Homo sapiens: one gene and its partner. The protein of the gene in region 1 purifies or fractionates together with the protein of each later gene. This does not show direct contact. Each region holds a gene or a part of one and is shown in the gene's direction. Other genes may lie near its edges.

What was found.
Region 2: the proteins of DACH2 (region 1) and TRIM26 purify together in Homo sapiens (affinity purification with mass spectrometry; 2 studies listed by BioGRID and IntAct, with this or other methods). This does not show direct contact.

What each region holds. Positions count from the first base shown.
Region 1 is NC_000023.11:86,830,307-86,833,287, forward strand, and holds the end of DACH2 (dachshund homolog 2), read left to right. Parts: intron 1-1,799; coding exon 1,800-1,849; 3' UTR 1,850-2,296; downstream 2,297-2,981. UniProt on the Homo sapiens protein: Transcription factor that is involved in regulation of organogenesis. Seems to be a regulator for SIX1 and SIX6.
Region 2 is NC_000006.12:30,199,526-30,203,454, reverse strand, and holds part of TRIM26 (tripartite motif-containing protein 26), read left to right. Parts: intron 1-2,316; 5' UTR 2,317-2,420; intron 2,421-3,929.

The sequences.
Region 1 (2,981 bases):
GTGTCAACATTATACAACATGCTACACAGGGGTCTGTTTCGCTACTGTCCTCAAAATTGGGAGAAAAAGTTTTACTACGGTGAAATCTCAATTTATTGTATTCTGGTAGAAAAGTTGATTCACTTAATATTGTTTTCTTCTTGCTAGCCTAGTTTTTCTTTCAATTTTTGAGCAGCTATGGGAACTATTCCTAATAGGCCTTGTAAGCAGACACATAAAGGATGTGGGCAAATATTTCTGTCTCTAAATAAAGGCAAGAAATAAACATAACAAAAGTAGAAATTTTTCAGAAACTGCATTTTTCTAAAGGACAAATGGTGATTGTCTTTCGCTATTCATTGCTGAGTTCATGTACCCTTTTTAAGGGGACATAGTGTGTGCTATTGCTTTCCAGTTTGTAATGTTCACAGTTTGTGTTGCATGATTTAAGCTTTAGCTATATTGTATAAATTTCAATCCTGGTAAAATGACTGTCATTTCATGTCAAAGAGCTTTCCTTTGACATTTAGGCTGTGTATACAAAGGATGAGGTAGACTGGAGGACTGAGCAAATATTTGGTCAATTCATCAGAGTAAATATTCTCAGACTCCACAAAGGAGTTGGAACAATTACCAGTGTCCAAAAATTCAAGCTTTGTTTTCTTCTGGTCCCTGGAAAAGTTTAAGTGAATTCCATGGGCTTCTTGGGAAAATGTCTGGTTGCCCTCTGATGAAGTCCAACCCTCCATAAGTCTGACTAACCCAAACCCCAAATCTTTTATTCATCTATTACCTTACTACATCTTTATTTTTGGTTCTGAGGTATTATCTAGAAAATTCTGCCACTCACCATGATACCTTATACACAGAAAGAATAAAGATTTTAAAGATATTATACACAAGGTTAAAAAAGGGTATACTTTCCTCCTAATAAGCTTGACCAGATTGACTTAATATTTTAGATTAGACATATTAGTCCAACAATGATAATGTCCTCTCCATTATATGTGAAAATAAAGCACTTGACTCAGAAACATTATCTTTAAGTATTTCTCAAGCACAGGTAATGGATTTGTACGGATTCATCCACATTTCTTTTCCTACTTCTTTTGTAACCAAAAGCCAATCTTTGTGATGTATCTAAATAGAGACTCAGGTTATAAGCCATTGCTATGGAAAATAACAAGGTTTGACAAAAAGAGGTAGAATAAATTTTTTTTTAAAAATTTCCAACAATAACTTTTACCCACCCAAATTAAATATTATCTAACTCTAGGATGGCATGGGCTCTTTTAATGACTATCATTTAGAGGGATACCGGTTTGACTAAACACTGTAGCTGAAACGATATTCCAAACTAGTCTCCCTTCATGCAGTATACACAGTCTCAGGGTTAACCCGGGAGAGGAAATTTTAAATGTACAAAGCTGTCATTATCTTAGATCATAACCAGATACTCTTTTCCCCCTGTTTTGGTAAACCACAGGGATGGTATTTCAGATGCACCATTATATACAAAAAAAAAAGTAATATAGATTATTACAGACATTATAATATAGTTCATGAAGAGCCTTTATCAGTCTTCAATGTCTCCGGTGCTGTGGAAAGAAGAACAGAAGCTATAGCATGAAATTTGAAGGATCTTTGAAAACTGACAGATGAAAATATAGAAATGTTAAGAAATGTTAAATTTTACCAACACTAAATTGAGCCTGTTACATCAGATCATTTTAGGTTCCTGAAGATAGAAGTTTTAGTATTTTTAAGCACGTATCAGAATGACTCTTCATAAGAACTAACTTGTTTTCTTTTTTTTTAAGGAGGTAACTATTACTGTTTAGAAATGGCACAACAGTTGTATTCAGCCTGAAAGGTCCTCGCTGGCTTTACATAAATGAAGATGCTTGTGATTCCAGTTTATCTCTGAAACTATTCAACATGGAGTTATTTCAGTTTTGTTTATCAGCAAAGCTTTGTTTACTGAAGGAGCTATTTAATCTATGTTACATTAAAAAAGAAACGCGTGTACATTTTAAAAGCAATGATGTAAACTTTGTTCTTGCATTAGACTGACCAGTTTAAAAATATGAACTAAAACCTAATGGCTAAAGTAACTTGACCATATTTGATGCTTTTCTATGCTCATTTCAACTTGGCTTTTTGTCTTTTAAATTTTTAAAAAATGCAGTAGTGTGTTAGAGACTAGAAAGTTATATGTATGGTTTCCCTGTTCTACTATACATAACGTTAAAGTACACCTTCTTTGTTAAAAATGTACTTGCTAAACTTCAGCGTAAATAAAAACATTTTGACTTTGTCAATTGTCACTGAGTATTTCTTTTCAAACTGCCAACTGCAGTCATTGAAACATATAGTAGAGTCAGTGCAAATCAAAATACGGGAACTAGCCAGATGTTTGCAAATCTTCCTCTAGTTTTGTTATTTTCAAGCAGATAGGAACACAGTTCTTATTTCAGTTCATCTGTTTAAACAGGCTGATATTCCTGTCCTCAATTGTTGTATTGATTCACACTGGATTGCCTTTTCCTAGTTATGTGTGCTTAGTGAACCTGCTTCCAGGAGGAAGGGTTACACTGGGAAGCAGGAAAAATGGGTGCACCAAGAACTAGAAAATATTTTCTGAGTATTTGTTATCATCAAAAGTTTATTCTAGAGTCACCTACACTAAAAAGCAAACAAAAATGGAAGGGGTATATCTTCTCTGGCCCCCCAAAATATCAAGTCTCTTTGTACGTCCAAGTGCCTATCACAGTGTAGTGAAAAACCAAGGCCAGTTATAGCCCTGCCCTACAGTTTATTTAATCTGTGCTCTTACTTTCTCTTGGTTCACTTCTGGTAAAATACTGGAGCTCACTCAAATTCTGGTTGACTATAAAACCTCTCAGGTTTTCCTATGAAGCGGCAGTGACACTCCCACTCCTTGCCTATCTTTTGAAATGTATTGTATCTCACAGTGTTCTAGCTGGTCACCCAATGACTGT
Region 2 (3,929 bases), on another chromosome or scaffold:
ACAAGAGAAAAACTCCATCTCAAAAATAAATAAATATATTAATAAATAAATAAGAAGTATAGGCATTCTCATACATAACCTCAGTAAATACCATTAAGAAAATAATTTTAGACATGGTGCAGTTGCTCATGCCTATAATCCCAGCACTTTGGGAGGCTGAGGTGGGAGGATGGCTTGAGCCTAGGAGTTTGAGACCAGCCTGGGCAATATAGTGGCAACTCTTCTCTACAAAAACCTTTAAAAATTAGCCAAGTGTGGTAGTATGCACCTGTTGTTGCAGCAACTCGGGAGCCTGAGATGAGAAGATTGCTTGAGCCAGGGAGGCCGAGGTTGCAGTGAGCCCAGATAGTTCCACTGCACTCTGGGGGACAGAGTAAGACCCTGTCTCAAAAAAAAAAAAAAAAAAAAGAAAGAGAGGAAATAATTTTTTAATATGATCTAACACCCAGCCTACTTACAAATTTCCCACAATAGTTCCAAGACTATTTTTATAACCTTTTTTTTCTTTTTACAGGATCCAATCAAGGTTCACGTATTGCATTTGGTTATTATTTCTCTTTAGTCTGTAAAAATCAAAAGCAGTTCTTTCGAAGGTTTTTTTTTATGACATTGACTTTTTAAAAGACTAGGCCAGTTGCCATGTGCAATGTCCAGCATTCTGGATTTATCTGGTTCTTTCCTTATGGTGTGGTTTAATTCCTCCATCGGTACTTTTTCAGTTATAACATACTTCAGAGTATTCCTTTCCTTTATATTTTTTATAAACTGGAAGTTAGATCTAAAGTCTTGACTAGATTCATTCAAGTCAAACATTTTTGGCACAAACACTTCATAGGTAATGTTGTGTGATTCATATAGTGCCATGCCAGAAAGCACATGCCACTTTGCCCCGTCTGCTGATGACGCTGGATTTGGTCACTTAGTTAAGATAACCACTGGATCTCTTCCTTATGAAGGTATGTCAGGAAGTAATCCATTCATTGGTGCTTTGGCACCATGGGTACTATCTCATCCCCCAAAACTTTTCACCTAATAGTTTTAGCATCTATTGATGATCCTTGTGCTATTATAATGGCAGTCGCAAAATGATTTTCTAATTCTGTTATCCCTCTTCTACTTATTTGCTGATTAATCTTACAGAAGGTTATTCTTCTGTAATCCCCAGACAATTTTAGGTATCTAGTACATATGCAATAATTTTTAGACAGTTTCAGGAGGTTTAGAGACCATCAAACCCCAGCATGGAGCCTGGGTGATGAGGTGTCCTGTTTTGCATGGAAGAAGAGCTGTAGCTGAGCTCTTCATAGTCCTTTTATTGTTCTTATTTTGCAAGTAAATTGCAAAATAAGTTCCCAACCCAAAGATAACACAGGCTATCCTTCAACAAAGAAAAACCTCAGCTTTTAAACTTCTAGGCCATTTGGCAAAGAGGCATGATAAAGGGCTTGAAAGCCCACAGACACGCCCAGTACCACTCCTTTTTCCTCTTTCCAAACACTTGCAGTATGTTACAACTGAAAAACTGCTGAGCCAGGCTTATTTCCTCAACAGTAAAGCCAAGGAGTTGGACCAGGCAATTCCTAGCATTTCTTTCTTTTTTTTTTTTTGAGATGGAGTCTCACTCTGTCACCCAGGCTGGAGTGCAATGGCACGATCTCGGCTCACTGCAACCTCTGCCTCCCGGGTTGAGGTGATTGATTCTCCTGCCTCAGCCTCCTGAGTAGCTGGGACTACAGGTGCATGCTACCACACCTGGATAATTTTTGTATTTTTAGTAGAGATGGGGTTTCACCGTGTTAGCCAGGATGGTCTCAATCTCCTGACATTGTGATTCACCTGCCTCGGCCTCCCAAAGTGTTGGGATTACAGGTGTGAGCCACCGTGCCCGGCCAATTCCTAGCATTTCTACCAGCATTACTAACATGTAGGAACTTGATATTACTTTCACTTGACAGTTAAATTCCTTGAATCCTTCATTTGAGCTTTGAAGGTGCTTGATTTTCCCCTCATTATGTCTCTTAAAGTCACACATACCTAGATCCATTAGTGCTTCCAGTTGGAATTTATTATCAGCACTATAAGAATCTCTTATATTTATGTAGTCCTTTTACGTTATAAAACACTTTTTATGTATTATTGTACTAGACCCTCAATGAGTGGACGTTATATCCCTGTTTTGTTTACTCTTGGGTCTTATAGACTGGGGGTTTTATTTCTGTCCCATTAATGTCACTACTGACAGAGGCCACTGAACTCTGTTGTGATGGACTTTCACCATACATAATCATTAATAGTATTGATTTGCCTGTAATTCAGGTTGCTTCATTCCAGCCTCGCAGTCACCTCTGTGCCCTGCTGGTTGTCTTCCCAGCGCTGCTGTAGTTGCCTTCCATGGATCTATAGGAGAGCAAGTCCTCCAGGTACTGCCCTGTGACGATGTTGTTGAACTCTGTAGCACGTGTGTCACTGTGGCTGGTTCTGCTCACTTCCTCTTTTGCTGCCACTTTTGAATTTAACTCTTTGTTTGTGGTTTGGACACTCACTGGATTTGGAAACCAGGGGTTGTGGGTTCTCTCCTAGATTTCCGTCTGTGTACCAGGCTTGTGCTTAGCACTTTTCCCATAATTCTTTCACATGACCTGCTTAGAAACCCTTAAAGGTAAGTATCACTCTTCCCATTTTACAGATGGATACACTGAGGCTCAGTACTTAAGTGACTTCTGTATTGTCACACAGAGTCAGGGGCAGGAGGCTGCTCTTGGGTTAGATGTGCTGAGGCTCATAACCTCAGCCTGGAACTGGGTCAGGACTACAAAGGTAAACAGAAGCAGAGTCCTTTCTGTGTGTCCCCGCTCCCTGTACAAGCCAAGGCCTCACAGCACATAGCAGCCACAGCCACCTGAGGATTCCTGCCATCTAGACGAGGCAGTTACAGCCAAGAACAAGTCCACTGAGGCTAAGCTGTGCTCCTCTGGAGGGCTGTGTTTAGAGTCCAGCCTTCTAGGGGAAGCAAATTAAACCCAAACTATAGAACAGCCCAGGGAAATACTCACAAAGGGAAATGCTGACAGTCAGACTCCTGAAGCTTCCTGATGCTTCTCGAGTTTTGGTAAAGAACCTCAGTGCTGTTTGTTTGTTTGTTTTTTAATGTTTTCTGGTTTTTTGTTTGTTTTGAGACAGTCTCTTATTCTGTTGCCCAGTCTGGAGTGTAGTAGTACAATCATGGCTCACTGTAGCCTCCACCTCCCAGATTCAAGTAATCCTTCTGCCACAGCCTCCTCAGTAGCTGAGACTACAGATGCATGCTACTACACTGGGGTATTTTAAAAAATTTTTAAATTTTTTTAGTTGAGACAGGGTCTCACTATGTTGCTGAGGCTGGTTTCAAACTCCTCGGTTCAAGTGATCCTCCTGCCTCAGCCACCCAAAGTGTTGGATTTACAGGGTGAGCCATGTCACATTGCCCTCTCTTAGTTCTTGAAACCTGAAACCTTGAGGAGCAAACAAAAGGGGTCTCTTGGCCAGGTGCAGTGGCTCACGCCTGTAATCCCAGCACTTTGGGAGGCCGAGGCAGGTGGATCACGAGGTCGGGAGATCAAGACCATCCTGGCTAACACGGTGAAACCCCGTCTCTACTAAAAATACAAAAAATTAGCCAGGTGTGGTGGTGGGTGCCTGTAGTCCCAGCTACTCGGGAGGCTGAGGCAGGAGAATGGTGTGAACCTGGGAGGCGGAGGTTGCAGTGAGCTGAGATCACGCCACTGCACTCCAGCCTGGGCGACAGAGTAAGACTCCATCTCAAAAAAAAAAAAACCAAAAAAAAAAAACGGGCGGTCTCTTGACTCTGTCAGGACCCCCATGACTGCTCGTGTGTCTTGTGCTTTGCACAGTTGAGTGAAGGAGCACTGTGTCCACAGTAGACATTGTAG